Regions from separate parts of the Homo sapiens genome. Here region 1 is linked to region 2. Evidence: fine-mapped expression QTL. Tissue or cell type: whole blood. Region 2 holds a variant in brackets; the other region holds the start of a gene. All regions are shown on one strand. Distances are from middle to middle.

Evidence for each region. PIP is the estimated chance that this variant, and not a neighbour inherited with it, causes the effect.
Region 1: it holds the start of BMP2, and the variant in region 2 is fine-mapped to the expression of BMP2 in whole blood (TOPMed, PIP 0.99).

Annotation. Positions count from the first base shown.
Region 1 is chr20:6,762,891-6,771,000 of GRCh38, forward strand. BMP2 (bone morphogenetic protein 2) reads left to right here and starts at 4,796. Exons shown (of 3, transcript NM_001200.4): 1 at 4,796-5,985; 2 at 7,230-7,582. The coding sequence starts at 7,237. LOC105372517 (a long non-coding RNA gene) reads right to left here and starts at 4,594. Exons shown (of 4, transcript XR_937229.2): 1 at 4,431-4,594; 2 at 3,510-3,915; 3 at 2,962-3,118; 4 at 2,703-2,779. RefSeq lists promoters at 972-5,850, 4,660-5,301, 4,691-5,850, cis regulatory regions at 3,764-4,554, 4,561-4,660, 5,301-5,475 and silencers at 4,740-4,789, 4,880-4,929.
Region 2 is chr20:6,882,000-6,890,109 of GRCh38, forward strand. No RefSeq gene overlaps it. Among named protein-coding and RNA genes, the nearest start is that of BMP2, 120 kb to the left of the region's middle. The variant T/C (reference allele first, on the strand shown) is at 3,890.

The sequences.
Region 1 (8,110 bases), 120 kb before region 2:
CATATATTTTATATGTATTTACCCGTAAACATGTTGCATTTCTTCCATTGAATTCTAAGTAAATTATGTGCAGAGATTATGTACTTTTGTATTAACTGGAGCCCAATAACATAGTGCCGTGGGCTTTGTAGTTGCTCAATAAATATTTGTAGACTGTATGTAAAAGGAAATACTATAGTTGACTCTTCACAGTCTATTTAACAGAAAGTCAAAACATTTTAATATCATTGACAAGGTATGCAAATGTATTAGTATATGATAATTAAATAATATGTAGTGGATATTTAAAACAATCGTACTTGGCCAATTTGGCCTGGCTTAGGCTTTGCATATAAATTACCCCACTCCACTCATCCTTCCTATTATGTCTAATCAAATGCAAAATAGGTAAACATTTGAATGACTAAATGCTGCTCTTTTGCTGTGGCTCCCGGGGTTCCCATGAAAGAATTTCATGGAGGTAAAGTAATCAGAACCGGTATTGGGTGTTGCACTAGTAACAAAGTGTTACTCATGCTAAAAAGCCAACAGGCTTCTCAGGGGAGTCTTATTTTGAAGACTATAATCATTTTCCAGAAGCATGTGCTCATTCAACCCATATTTTTGAAATCTACCAAGTGCAAAAGAAAATCACATAAGATAAACTCACATCTTTCGAGAACCAGAACCGATGGCCTTAATTTGCATGTATATAGTAATACAAATTTGCAACCTTTTGTTGTCTTCACACATATCTTCTCATTTATTCTTCACAACCTCCATGAGAAGTCAACTGTTAGTCTCTATAGAGTATTCATGAGGGAGCCGAGGCTATGAGAATTTGTTACTGCCATAGATCAGAGGTCCCCAACCCCCGGGCCATGAATAGTACTTGTCCATGGCCTGTTAGGAACCCCCAGGGGCAGGTGAGGGAGCATTACTGCCTGAGCTCTGCCTCCTGTCAGATCAGCAGCAGCATTAGATTCTCATAGGAGCTCAAACCCTACTGTGAACTGCATGTATGAGGGATCTAGGTTGCATGCTCCTTATGAGAACCTAACTAATGCCTGACGATCTGACGTGGAACCGTTTCATCCTGAAACCATCACCCCCAACCTGGTCTGTAGAAAAATTTTCCTCCACAAAACTGGTCCCTGGTGCCAAAATGGTTGGGGACCTCTGCTTTAGATTGACTGACCCAACTGGTGGCCTTTCTGATGAAATATCCACTGTTTGGCAATATAATAAAAGCTGGGAGAAGAGAAGGAGAAGGAGGAGAAAGAGGAGGAGAAGAAAGGCATCCAAAGTCCTATTTCTTAAAACCAGGCCATATTGCAGACAGAAGGCCAAAGAATACATTTGAAGATACATAGAGTGAGTAGCAATCAGAAACTAAGTTCACACATGTTATCCATTTGACCTTCATCATGTCAGTCTGAAGCAAGCAAACATATATTTATTTACCCCAATTAACAGATGAAATGACCATTTTAAAGTCAGTCATCCATGACAGAACCAGGAATTAGAACCCAGGTCACCCAACTACATCTTAGAGTGTTATCAACATAGTTTACAGACATAACTTAAGGTGTACATCTTAAACTGTGTGACAGTCTAATCAATGCACAAAATTCATTCTTTTTAATTTTTAAGAAGATGTAGTTGGTACTTGCTGAAAGCAGTGATCCTGATTTGGCCAACTTGGCCTAGTTTCTGATATAAATCACTCCACCTCTCCCATCCTTTCTACCATGTCTAATCAAACACCAAAAAGGAAAACATTTGATTGACTAAATGCTTCTCTTTTGCCTTGGCTCCAAGTTCCTGTAAAAAAAACTTCATCCAGGTAAAGTAAGTAGGGATGGTTATGGGTGTCACCCTTGTAACAAAGCGATATGTATGCTAAAAAGCAAAGAGGGTTTCTCAGGGCAGTTGCCACAGGTTTCCATGGAATGACAATTACAAGGTAGATGGATCACGTAATGCCTGCTGTGAACTTTACAATACATGGGGATCACTATTTTAATGTTGATTTGCATAATGTTTGGCCTAGCAAGAACAATACTGAATGCTAATAGCTACAGAATGCAATAAAATGGAATATCATGTGAGCTGAAGTGCTAAAATTGCTAAAGTATGACTGTAAGCAGTTAATTTCATCCCGAGTCTTGTCCACACACAATCAAATGCAAATTTCCACTATCTCCTGAGAAACTGCCAAGAGATGACTGAAATGGAATAGCAACAACCTCCTTTATGTGGAATCATTATCTGGTCATCTTTGCTTTTTTACATAACTTGTCTGTACCCTCTGATGCATTTGAATTTGCAACTTCTACTATCCCTATCTTAAACAACTCCCCACTCCCACCTCTGCCCCTTCCACATTTGCTGGCAGATGCACTAAGTCTGATAAACTCAGCAAGACTGAATCTCACCCTCTGAACTGAAAAACTTTGAATGGACCTTTGAAAACGGTAGAATTGACAATGGTTAGCTGCAAGTGATATTTTCAAGGCAAACAGACACTCTCCCAAAGTATTAAATAACCCAGCATTCTAAGTTGCAGGTGGAAGGTAGCCATTAGTGAAGAGAGAGAAAAAAAAAAGAAATAGCTCGTCTGTATTTAGATTTATCATTTCTGACTATTGCTCTTCCCTGGAAAACGGGTAGGTACAGTCATCCTGTACTTCGATCCCAAATCAGTCTCTGGAGACTACTTATTTATTTATTTATTTATTTATGGACTTCTTTCTTTCAAGCGTTCGAACTCATTTCCACCACAAGAGGGCAGCCATCTCTAAAAAAAAAAAAATAGGGCCAAAATTTATGTAAGTTGTGCTTGGAACAAGCATTCAGTAGTTCCTCAGAAATCATACACCCTACATAAAAGAGATTCTGCAATGGGCAGCACTAACATGAAACAGTGTTCAGAAGTACCCATTTTCCCTCAGATTCTAAACTGACAAGGTTTCCACTTACCAGGTTATGAAGTTCTAAAGCTGCAAGACATCCTTGAGGTCATCACAGGATATTTATTTATTTTTTCTTCGGGTGCATCCAATAGTTATCAACTTTTCCTCCTCTTTAAAAGCTACTTAAATCTCATTGAAGTTTTGTTTTGTTTTGTTTTTGAAATCTAAGTAATGAGAGAAACAATTGTTAACTTCTCAATTAAACTTGATAGGAAAGGAAATAATTTCAGAAGCCCTGTGTCCATGAGTAGGATATGTTTTATTGCCTCCTTGTTTGCGGTGCAATGACTCTGAGTGACAATCAACTTCTATAGCACCTTTTTTTTTTTTTTCAGGAAATAAAGTAGCATGTTCCTGAATAATTCCCCCACCCCCTTTTATTTTCCTGGTAGTCAGGCTTCCTCCAAAATACCTTATTTGACCTTTATACCTTTAGAAACAGCAAGTGCCTAATTCGCCTCTGTGGGTTGCTAATCCGATTTACGTGAGCGGAACCTAGTATTATTTTAGCTCCCCTACCGAAAAAATAATACACATGGATAATAGTTCTATTACCAGCTCCTGCTTCTGACTTTTTTCTCTCTGTTTCGCAGGCCCGATAGCTCTGGGAAAGCAGAACTTGGCCTTTTCCAAAAATTTTCTGCCCTTGGTTTTGGGGATCATTTGGGCAAGCCCGAGGTGCTGTGCATGGGGGCTCCTGGAATCCTGGGAAGGGCAGAAAGCCTTGGCCCCAGACTCATCGTGCAGCAGCTCTGAGCAGTATTTCGGCTGAGGAGTGACTTCAGTGAATATTCAGCTGAGGAGTGACTTGGCCACGTGTCACAGCCCTACTTCTTGGGGGCCTGGTGGAAGAGGGTGGCGTAGAAGGTTCCAAGGTCCCAAACTGGAATTGTCCTGTATGCTTGGTTCACACAGTGCGTTATTTTACCTTCCTCTGAGCTGCTAATCGCCTGCCTCTGAGCTGGGTGAGATAAATATCACAAGGCACAAAGTGATTGTACAATAAAAAAATCAAATCCCTCCCATCCATCCTTCAGTCTGCCACACACGCAGTCTACGTTACACACATGTCACGTAAAGCAGGATGACATCCATGTCACATACATAGACATATTAACCGAAATGTGGCCCTTCGGTTGCATATATTCTCATACATGAATATATTTATAGAAATATATGCACATATTTTTGTATATTGGATATATTTATGTAACTATAAATTTACATGCGTATGGATATGAAAATAAATGCATACACATTTATGTAAAAAAATTTGTACACATGCATTTACATATGTAAATACATACATCTCTATGTATTAATGTTTAAAAACACTCAATTTCCAGCCTGCTGTTTTCTTTTAATTTTCCTCCTATTCCGGGGAAACAGAAGCGTGGATCCCACGTCTATGCTATGCCAAAATACGCTGTAATTGAGGTGTTTTGTTTTGTTTTGTTTTTTGAAATCGTATATTACCGAAAAACTTCAAACTGAAAGTTGAATAACGGGCCCAGCGGGGAAATAAGAGGCCAGACCCTGACCCTGCATTTGTCCTGGATTTCGCCTCCAGAGTCCCCGCGAGGGTCCGGCGCGCCAGCTGATCTCTCCTTTGAGAGCAGGGAGTGGAGGCGCGAGCGCCCCCCTTGGCGGCCGCGCGCCCCCGCCCTCCGCCCCACCCCGCCGCGGCTGCCCGGGCGCGCCGTCCACACCCCTGCGCGCAGCTCCCGCCCGCTCGGGGATCCCCGGCGAGCCGCGCCGCGAAGGGGGAGGTGTTCGGCCGCGGCCGGGAGGGAGCCGGCAGGCGGCGTCCCCTTTAAAAGCCGCGAGCGCCGCGCCACGGCGCCGCCGCCGCCGTCGCCGCCGCCGGAGTCCTCGCCCCGCCGCGCTGCGCCCGGCTCGCGCTGCGCTAGTCGCTCCGCTTCCCACACCCCGCCGGGGACTGGCAGCCGCCGCCGCACATCTGCCGCCACAGCCTCCGCCGGCTACCCGAACGTTCTCGGGGCCAGCGCCGAGTGGATCACCGGGGACCGCGAGGCACCCGCGCGCCGCAGACCCCGCGCGGGCTGGAGCACCCGGCAGAGCGCGCCACAGCGCCGTGGCCTCTGCTGCCCGGGCTGCGCCAGAGCCGCGGACGGGCGCGCAGAGCGCCGGGGACTCCGGAGCCGATCCCTAGCGCCGCGATGCGGAGCACCTACTGCAGGAGATCGGGGGCCTGGGACGCGCTGGCCGAGGTGTGATCGGACCCCAGGCTAGCCACAAAGGGCACTTGGCCCCAGGGCTAGGAGAGCGAGGGGAGAGCACAGCCACCCGCCTCGGCGGCCCGGGACTCGGCTCGACTCGCCGGAGAATGCGCCCGAGGACGACGGGGCGCCAGAGCCGCGGTGCTTTCAACTGGCGAGCGCGAATGGGGGTGCACTGGAGTAAGGCAGAGTGATGCGGGGGGGCAACTCGCCTGGCACCGAGATCGCCGCCGTGCCCTTCCCTGGACCCGGCGTCGCCCAGGATGGCTGCCCCGAGCCATGGGCCGCGGCGGAGCTAGCGCGGAGCGCCCGACCCTCGACCCCCGAGTCCCGGAGCCGGCCCCGCGCGGGGCCACGCGTCCCTCGGGCGCTGGTTCCTAAGGAGGACGACAGCACCAGCTTCTCCTTTCTCCCTTCCCTTCCCTGCCCCGCACTCCTCCCCCTGCTCGCTGTTGTTGTGTGTCAGCACTTGGCTGGGGACTTCTTGAACTTGCAGGGAGAATAACTTGCGCACCCCACTTTGCGCCGGTGCCTTTGCCCCAGCGGAGCCTGCTTCGCCATCTCCGAGCCCCACCGCCCCTCCACTCCTCGGCCTTGCCCGACACTGAGACGCTGTTCCCAGCGTGAAAAGAGAGACTGCGCGGCCGGCACCCGGGAGAAGGAGGAGGCAAAGAAAAGGAACGGACATTCGGTCCTTGCGCCAGGTCCTTTGACCAGAGTTTTTCCATGTGGACGCTCTTTCAATGGACGTGTCCCCGCGTGCTTCTTAGACGGACTGCGGTCTCCTAAAGGTAGAGGACGCGGGCCAGGGCCCGGGGTGGGTGGTGGGTGGGAGGGGGATTTGGGCAGCCACTGCGGTAGAGCCCTTCCTTACGTCCAGGCCAGAAGTAAACAGACCCCTCTCCAGTCCACGTGCAACGGAGCCCTGCAGGGGCTCCCACTTCCAGCTGCCCCGGGCGACCGTAAGCCTCACCCTCCCGGCCCGCACTCTTCCACCCCTCTTTCTTCCCCTCTCCCTGGAATACTTTTGGAGCTGTTAACACTTAGATGAGGTGTTTTATTTATTTATTTATTTATTTTTAATTTTTTTAAAAACTTTTTTGGGTCAAAGAAATCCCTTTGAGAGGGTAGCCCCTGGGTTTCACCCGTTAGCTGAGAACCTGTCCGCTCTGCCATGGTGATCTCCATTCTTCAAGTGTTTCCGGGAGACTTGGTTTCTTTGCTCAGAGCCGTGTCCCATTTAGGAAAGTACTAGGAGTTTGGGGTTCTCCCTACTTGTTTCCAGAAATGCGAGGGGTCAGTACTGAAGGATCACTTGGTACTGTGTTTTTAACAGCTGACACGTGCATTAATAGATATTCACCATTTACGTAATCCCGGGAAGATACATGTGTATCTTGACTGCACTGTGGGGATGCGGGATGGAGCTGCCTTTCGAGACACCCCTGAGGGTAGGGGCCTGGGACACAAGTCATAAGTGGCTTCAGAAGTTGTGGCCTTGAGCTTACAGGGTCTGGAAGCTATAAGGGTGTGTGTGTGTGTGTGTGTGTGTGTGTGTGTGTGTCAGGAAGTTCTATACAGTGCCTCTAAGGAAGTCACATGCACCATTTATGTGTGTTTATATGCCAGACAGCGCTCAGCACTCCGCATTTGGGTTTGTATAGGGGACGCAGGGTGTCAGATCAAGCGGTGGTTTTCCCAGGTTCCCGGCATTGGCTGTCAGCGCTGTGTCACACACAAAAAAGTGACAGTCATTGGCGCTGGTTTGGTTGGGGGGGAGGGCAAATCCCAAATCTGATGTCAGACGAGCTAAGCGTTGGATGGGAGCGATAAATCATCTGGTTCAGGAACTTGGGACCCTTCATTATCCCAAACGTTTGAGCTTCGGTCGGTCTTACCTAGACTCGTGAGTGTGCCAAGCCAGGAGGGCATCCTGGAGGAGGCACGCCAGCCAAATGGGAGACCGGGCCGCGGGGGCGCGAGGGGGGAGGACTGGGCGGGGAACTCGGGTGACTCACGTCGGTCCTGTCCGCAGGTCGACCATGGTGGCCGGGACCCGCTGTCTTCTAGCGTTGCTGCTTCCCCAGGTCCTCCTGGGCGGCGCGGCTGGCCTCGTTCCGGAGCTGGGCCGCAGGAAGTTCGCGGCGGCGTCGTCGGGCCGCCCCTCATCCCAGCCCTCTGACGAGGTCCTGAGCGAGTTCGAGTTGCGGCTGCTCAGCATGTTCGGCCTGAAACAGAGACCCACCCCCAGCAGGGACGCCGTGGTGCCCCCCTACATGCTAGACCTGTATCGCAGGCACTCAGGTCAGCCGGGCTCACCCGCCCCAGACCACCGGTTGGAGAGGGCAGCCAGCCGAGCCAACACTGTGCGCAGCTTCCACCATGAAGGTGAGGCATGGAGCAGGGCGTGGGGGCGGGGAGTCACCCTGCAAAGCCCTCCACCGTGGGCAGACTGCAGCCGTCCCTGTAGAGGCAGCTTGGCCGGGGCACCAGCGGACGTTTCCACTCTTGCTTCTGTACTATCGTTTCTGAATCTGATTTTAACTCACTGCTTGTGTGGTGGGGGAGCCAGGGATTCCCCTTTAGTAACTCCGCACCCTCTTCCTGGCTTGCAGCCAGAAGAGCTACTCCTCCTGGAAGAATTGGAGAGAAATCAAGTGATGGGGAAGATGAGGGCAAAAGGCATGCCTCTAGTCAGCTAAACGTGCAAGAATTCCACAGAGGGAAAAGGAGAAAAAGGGAGGCAGATTGAGATTTCTTTAAGTCTGTTTGGAAGCTTTTGCTCTATAAATCTGCCGCTTAAGCCAGGGTTTTAGGGTAGACAGAGCCAAGGGCAGAGTTTTCAGAGATAGTATTGAAAAATCAAAGCCCAGGGCCCCAAAGTCTTTCTAATTTATAGTTGATCTGGGCCTGGTT
Region 2 (8,110 bases):
CTCTTACTCCATCTCCTGTTCTTCACTGAGGGAAGTGGGACCATATTGACTTTCCTGCTGAGGCAATACCCCCTAGGATATAAGCAGAACCCTCAGGAGGAACTCAAACTTTTTCCCCTTTGTCTTTGGCCTTCTTTAGAGTAGCCTTTTTTATGTAACAAGATTTCCCTGCAATTTAGACCACCATTGCCTTAAGGAGTGAGGCTAAAAGCTGCTGTTTACTTTTCTAGGCATCAGGGTGAAATAATTCCTGTGTAGTTTAGATTTCCCCAAGCACTACATTATTGTGTTATACTACTGAAAATTAGCCTCTATATCTTTATTATGGTATACGACCTTGCTGGCAGAAAAAACACTGGTGACATTATAGATCCTTAATTATATAGATCCTTAATTAATCCTTATAGATTCTTTATTCATAGTTGAATGAAATGAAAATGGAACTATTTTGCCATCTCTGGTTAGATCTCTTAAATTGGCTTTGGAATTTGTTGGCTTGGCCTCTGAAGAACAAAGAGTTGGGAACGTTTGACCTTGCCTGCGATTAACTTTCTCAGTGCATGGAATTTAGAGCCAGACTGGGCTTCTTTCTGCAGTCCCTTTAGTCAGTTCACAGGCCAGTGGAAGCACTAGTTTTTCAAGGAAAAGCCAACTCTTGACATAGCAAGATCAGAGCTAGAATCCTAGGAAGCATGCTTGGCTGTACACGATCCCTCTAATTTCAAAGCAAAGCAATGTAAGGAGACAGCTTGGTAGTTGTTTTATTTTCTCTAGAGTGGACTTATGTTGTCAGTGGCAGAAATCCATGAACCATGAAGATAAAATAATGCTAACCAGAGTGCTAAGTAAAGAAAACAAAGATGGCTCCACAATTAGTAGCATTATATATGTTAGTGCTAAGTAACAACAGATGTGTCTGCAGGGAGAGAAGCATTCCTTGCAATCCATCAGAAACCAAAGTTCTCTGACACCACAAGCCATTATGATTATCTTAGGCTTGGGGGATGATGGCTGAGTCCACTGGGTTGGCAAAGTAGGGATGCTGTTGAGGGTGTTCCAACCTACCTATGTCATCCTTCCCATGTTGCACACTTGTGCTGAGTTAACAGGGCGATGTGCTCTGTAAAATCCGGTTCTGTAAAGACATGCACTAGCCATGAGTCATTAGCAAGCATGCGAAGCTAATTGGCAAAATACTCATAAAATATTTTGAAGGTGGGTTAATTACAATTCATTACACAGTAAACTGTCCCCAGGCTATTGTTAAAAAGTACAGGAGTTTCAGGGCCCATTATTTTATGATTCATTTTGCCATGTTGTGAAAAACAGACTCTAAATCAAACTACATTTATTATAGGTCAGACCACAAAATCTTTATTGGTTTTTCCAACATTCCACCCTTGTTATATGAATTCATATGGACTGCACATTTCTGTCAATTGGCAAGAAAGCATGAAATAAAATTTATGATATTTTCTTACCTTATCCTCAGTGTAGCCTTAAAAATCACAAGATCTAATTGCTTCCCCTACTTCCCCAAGTTCATGCAAGAAATAAGTATTTCAAAATCAACTCCAAAGTTCTAATGATTGAAAGCAACTAAAGCATAATGAAATCTGTCTTCTAAAGTAAGCATCTTAAAGAAAAACTCAAAGCAACATCCACTTGAAATGTGTTGAAGCTTTTTTCCCGCTCTACCCAGTAAAATATCTAGAATATACTTTACATTTGGAGGATAATTTGAAGTTCATTGGCTCCATAACACAAATCTTGTTCTCCTCATCTCTACCTTTGAAAGCATCTTTCTTTTTTTTTTTTTTTTGAACCAAAGCAAGCCCTCAGCATTTATTTCTTGAAAAAACAAAACAAAACAAAAACCCTCTGGTACAGTTGTGTGCCTCCTGTTATTACCATAGGCAGATTTGGTCAGAATCATGTAAGGCCTCATAAGTAGTCATTCTGTACCATTACATGTAATTGTTTGTTGATTAATGCTTTCAATTATGTTGATTTTCACTATGTGACCCAAACCACCTTGACATAGCCAGCCTGGTATACTCATTACCGGGGATGAGCAAGGAACAAAATGCTAGGTTCACTTCCAGCCTCCAAGAGTTCAGCAGCTCATTTGAACCTTATCTGAACTATCAAAAGTTTTGACTCTGCAGAAACCTGTGTTTGGGGAAGGGGCAGGAATGTGTGGCTCAAGAAAGGCTTTAGGATGAAGTGGGGGTTGTGGGGGGAGATGTTGGAAATTGTGCAAAAACTAGTTTCCTTGTGAGTGATCAGGTACTTCCTGATTCTGGCTGGGCCAGAAATACCACAAAAGCCTTTCTTGAAATTTCTGAGATCTTTGGAAGGTCTTCCTCCAAGCAGTTTGCCAGTTCTGCATGCCTGGGTTTTGGCTAGGGCTGGAGACCAAAGTATGTGCAAGAGGAAACCGTTTAATAGAAAGTTACCTGTATACTTAAGAATTGTCAAAAGAGTTTTACCTCTACTAGAATAAAGCCTGAATGGTTTGATCAGTGTCAATGATCTTAACCACTCCCATTCCTCATAGAAAGATGAAGCTGAAAGATGACATTGGAAATTGCTAATGCAACCCACTTATTTTATAGGGGCAGTCAGGATATCCATAGAAACTATTGACTGGGTCTATACACATGTGGACCAGAGTGAGAACTAAAGAGCCAGTAGAGGAACAAAAGAGGAAGAAAGGGGAGCCAAGCTGTTGAAAAGCTTGAGTTCTGTCTTTACTCTGCCATATTAGTGGTGTGATCTTAGGCAAGTCACTCCAATTCTCTGATCCTCTCTGGATCATTTCAACCACAAAATACTAAATTAAATGTTGTTGTAGGATGAAAGTACTAAGAAAGGGTGATTTGGAAGCCAGACCAAGCTGGATGAAAAGAGTGTCAAATTGGGAAGAGAAAGAATGGCAGCTAGGAAATGCTGGTGAGTTGGAGAGAAAACATTGAGTGGAAACAAAAGAAACTTGATGGGAAATGACTATTTTGCATTGAGTAACAACAGACAATCATAACATAACTTGAGGAGAAAGTAAAGTTGTTTGATGCAATTTTAAAAGATGTCAAAATAGCCTTAAGTTTTATGAAATAAACGAATATTCCAAAGAGGCAAGCATGAAAGGAAGAAGTGTTCAAATATGGGAGACACTAGGTCGGGCGCGGTGGCTCACGCCTGTAATCCCAACACTTTGGGAGGCCGAGGCGGGCAGATCATGAGGTCAGGAGATGGAGACCATCCTGGCCAATATGGTGAAACCCCATCTCTACCAAAAATACAAAAAATTAGCTGGGCGTAGTGGCGGGTGCCTGTAGTCCCAGCTACTCGGGAGGCTGAGGCAGGAGAATGGCGTGAACCCAGGAGGCGGAGTTTGCAGTGAGCAGAGATTGCGCCACTGCACTCCAGCCTGGGCGACAGAGCGAGACTCCGTCTCAAAAAAAAAAAAAAAAAAAAAAAAAAAAGGGAGACACTAGGACAAATTAGTTTCCTAAATCATGCTTCACGGGACTAAGGGCCAGAGCACAGAATACCCCACTACTTCTTCCTCAACCAGAGCAGTTGCCAGTTTATCTCTTCCAAGCAAGCTTTTGTTTAAAGAACGTTTTCTGAAGCTAAGGAAAAAAATTTCTAATTGCTAACCTTGCAAGAAATCAAAAAAACGAGTGGTACTTTAATGAGTTCATTTATTGTGACACCTTTAACAGATACAACTGCAGGCCCTTGAGTGAATGAAGATCTGAAGTGGCTGTTCTGTGTAAAATACACGTGGATTTTGCAATGTGGCCATTCTAATTGGCAGGTAACTTCAACATCAGAAATCTCCAAGCTGGGCTCTCTGAGGAGAGCGGGACTAGCTCTCTTA[T/C]AGGCACCAACATTGCAGTTTGGATTATGGTTTTTTGACGAAGGGTATTCAGTGTGTCAGAGGGAAGGAAGTCCAGGGCCAGGGTCAGCCATCTTTCCTTCTGCCCGCAGTAATGTTGACCTCTCGAGGAATTGATGACAGTGGAAGAGTTCGGGAAAGGAAAGGGTGGTCAGTAGCTCCAGAGTATAAACATTGGGAACAGGTTTGAGAAGAATGCTCAGGAAAATAGAAACAACTAACCAGCAACTAAACAACTAAATTGCCTGACAGGGAATCATGGAAGCTAATCAATGCAAAATTGGTGGTCAGGTAGGGGCGGGCAATGTTGACATTGAAGTCTTGTGGACAGGCTTCCTGTGTTGATTTAGTAACCACACAATGGGTAAGGGAGAGGGGATCTCTGATCATAGCACCACTAATACTAGGATGCTTCTCTTTGACAGGCATAGGGTATTTTTTTTCTTTTAAGCATTAAGTAAGTGAGAAGATCACCTTCCTTTCTTTCTCTTTTGCCCTAAGGGCCTGCCCATTTCCAGCTGCGTAATTACCTCCTTCATAAGCCTTTACTCTGAGGCATGAAGGCTCTAGCCAGTACCCTGACTAACTCCCTGCTGGGGATGCCTCCGCTGAACAGAGCAGAGAGACCTGCTGATTTCAGAGCCAAGCGCAGAAAGCAGCTGGCTCTTAACTTGTTGTTTAAGAGAGCCAAGCAGAACAGAGCTGACGATTGCCTGGCCAGTGGGAGCCTGAGCCAGGCACCTGTCAAATCCTGCTTTGCTGGGTTCTCCTGCACCCTGCTCTGCAGTGCGCTTTTCCGAGACTGGCGGTCCACACCCCACAGGCTTTCTCCCTCTACAGCCAACCAGCTGCCAGCACCCCTGTAAATTCTTTCTCCAGCTAATATTTTGATCCCTAAGCAAGTTTCTCTCTCTTTTACTGGCAGGAAAAAAAAATGTCAAAAAGGGAAAATGATGATGTCTCTATTTTCTTCTGATAGCAGGCTACCAAACACTCCCAGCATATCCATTCTTTCGCTTTGGGAAAGAGGGAAGGCAAAGTGGTCTTGACGGTGTGTGTGCAAGGAGAGACATTCGAATGTGTATTTTTACCTGTCATTTGGGTCTTGAGAAGGTTGAAGTCTGCATATGGAAAAACTGGCCCTTTCTCTTCTCAGTTCTGAGTTTTAGAGTTAGTAAACTATGTAAATTATTTTATTTCTCTGTGCTCTGCATCCAGGCTGATGTCCTGGAGAGAGGGCTTTGAAAAACTGCCCCTGAAGCTATTGGCATTAACTGAAATTGATGTTTCACAGGACTGGGATAAAGAGGGTTATCAGTAGCTCAGGCCTGGCCTGCCTTGGGGACCACTGCCCACTGGATTACCTATTGGCTTAGGGCATAGGCACTGGCTTAGGAATTAAAAGTACTAAGTTCCAGACAAGCTCTGTTTGTGAAATCACTTAGGCCTCCAGCAAGCTTTAGCTTTTCCAAGGTTTTAGTGCTCTCATTTGTAGAATGAGACGGTCAGTTAGACATCACCTCCAAAACGTTACGAGTTTCATGAATCTGGCTGCACTTACTTTGTGGAGCCATCAGCCCTAACCTGAAGCCTGGGAAACAAGTAAACGTGTTTCAAGTTTCTTAAAAGTTGCTTTCTCAAGTTACTTCCTTTCTTCACACAAGAAATGAAAGGGAAACACTGCTGCAAAGAGCCCTGGAAACAGGTCCTGATTTTAGAAGAGAGCCTTGAGATGACAGGGGCATGGATGTCCTGCACATTCCTTCAGCATAACCGCAGAAAGCCTGCATATATTTTTCGTTGTTTGTAATTGCAAACTTTTCTAAAAATCTACCCTTTAGAAATGATTGCCTTTCTCTGAGGATCAGATCACAGTCCAGCCAATTCTCAGAGAAAATTAAACAAAGAATACTGAGCCTGGAATCTGTGATTAGGATGCCTGGCGAAGTAAAAATGACCGTGTACTTTCCCAAGTGGGTCAGCTATGGCCCCAGATATCCAAACAGGATGGCACATGAATCATGCCGGTTTGATGGGCTCTCTCAGGCTGGATTTACAGCTGGATTTAGGACTAAATGTTGGAGGTAAATCTAAAGGAGCAGAAGGGCTGGGGAGGGAATGGGAAATCAAGGGAGTTTCCATCAAAGCTTTTCAGAAGCAGAAATCCATTCTACCTTTGTCGATGACTGTGGTTTGCTAGGATCAAGATCAAAGGAATCACCGTGGGCAGAGCCATGACAAGTATGAGGCTCAGTCTGGTGCAACCTAGCATTAGCCCCTCTCTTAGGCTGCCGTCTAGACTGGAAGTGGGTGCTCATACCAGACCAGGCTGAGTGTGTAGTCAGGGTACTGTTTCATGACGGGGCAAAGGACTTATAAAGCCTATCTTGATCTCCCCAGGGAAGCCCACAGCCAGGGGCAGTGAGGCACAAAGTAGCTATATCCCTGATTATGTCCTTGGGAAAACAGGGGACATGGAATGACCATGAAGCCAGGTGGTTGACAGGGACAAGGAACTGATTTTGGCAAAATCCAACTGGCTTGTTTTGTGTATCTTTCCCTCTCCTCCCTGATTGCTTTAGAAGGCTGCTCTAAAAGTTTACTAAAAAGTTGTTCGTTTGCAGGCCTAAGACACTTGATATTTGAACTAGAAGGTCTTCTTATCCACACTTTACAGACCGAAAAACTGAGGCACAGAGGGGTTAAATTAGGTCACCCAGCCATGGGTGGAGGATCCGGGAATGAATTAGGACAGATTCATTCCACAGCCCATCTCATAACGACTGACTACTCTAAAGGATATTGGTAAATTTGAATCTTATTTACTGGAAAAGCCCCTCTTGTAGAGCTGGTGCATCACAGATACCAAATAGACCTGGTTCTTATTTGTATTCCTTCATTTATAAGACTCACAGTATATCTATTAAGTTACAAAGCTAAAGATTAAAGAATTTGGTGCTGAGAACATGAATGTAAACTCATCATTTGTTGCTAAATGTATTGGGGTCAGTCAACTTGGGTTAGTGACCACAAAGAGGAACTTTTAGGAGGCCCATGGCTAGCTTTAGAAATGCATGGTTTTTGCCTAAAGCAAAGTCATCTTGAACATGTTTTGATATTATCTAATATTCCTTATTGTTTTCATAAACACTTACGGCTCAAAGGAAACCCAAGCTCACCATGCCCAGAAAATCTTCAATCTTCCTCTCCCCGTTGAGGCTCTCCTCCCAGGACTGGAGATAGTAGGACAGGAAGCTAGCACTCTACTTGAAAAATGGAATCTACCTAGTGCTGACTCATTTCCTTGCAAAATGTTGTGTGTGAGCTATTTGATGCCCCCAGAATCTTGGGAGTCCTTTTGGATGAATTTTATAAGCCGTTCCTTGATACAGATACTGCATGCTTAGACGCTACAGGTTGCCAAGATAACTCAACCCCAAAAGACTTAAGGTAAATGAAATCTCCAAGTCCCAAGGATTAGGTATGAGTTTTGGCTGCTTGGGTTTTCTCACACAAATGCCTCATATGGCAGCAGAGCAGGCAGCACCCTCCGCAGAATTGGATTATCTTGATGTTTAAGTTTTGCAAATGGATCATTCTCAACTGACCATGTGAATTGAAGAAGGTTGCTGAACTTTTGCTGGCCTCTAAGCCGTGGGCAAATAGAGTGAATCCTATTGATTAAACCCAAAGCTTCCTCCTGTGGAAAATCCTATTTAAGTAGAAGGATTATTACTATTGCCCATTAAAAAATAATCACTATATTGGGCTGGGTGCGATGGCTCATGCCTGTAATCCCAGCACTTTGGGAGGCTGAGGTGGCGGATCACCTGAGGTTGGGAGTTCCAGACCAGCCTGACCAACATGGAGAAACCCCATCTCCACTAAAAATATAAAATTAGTGGGCATGGTGGTGCATGCTTGTAATCTCAGCTACTCGGGAGGCTGAGGCAGGAGAGTTGCTTGAACCCAGGAGGCGGAGGTTGCGGTGAGCCAAGATGGTGCCATTGCACTCCAGCCTGGGCAACAAGAGTGAAACTCCAACTCAAAAAAAAAAAAAATAATAATAATAATAATCGCTATATTGTACCTTTCTTATTTGAAAGGGAGCCAGAATCTAAACAGTAAAGTGTGGTGAGGGGGTTGTTGTTCACTAGGGTGTCTCCCATAGTACAAGTTTATGATTGCATAGTTCCTGTTTCT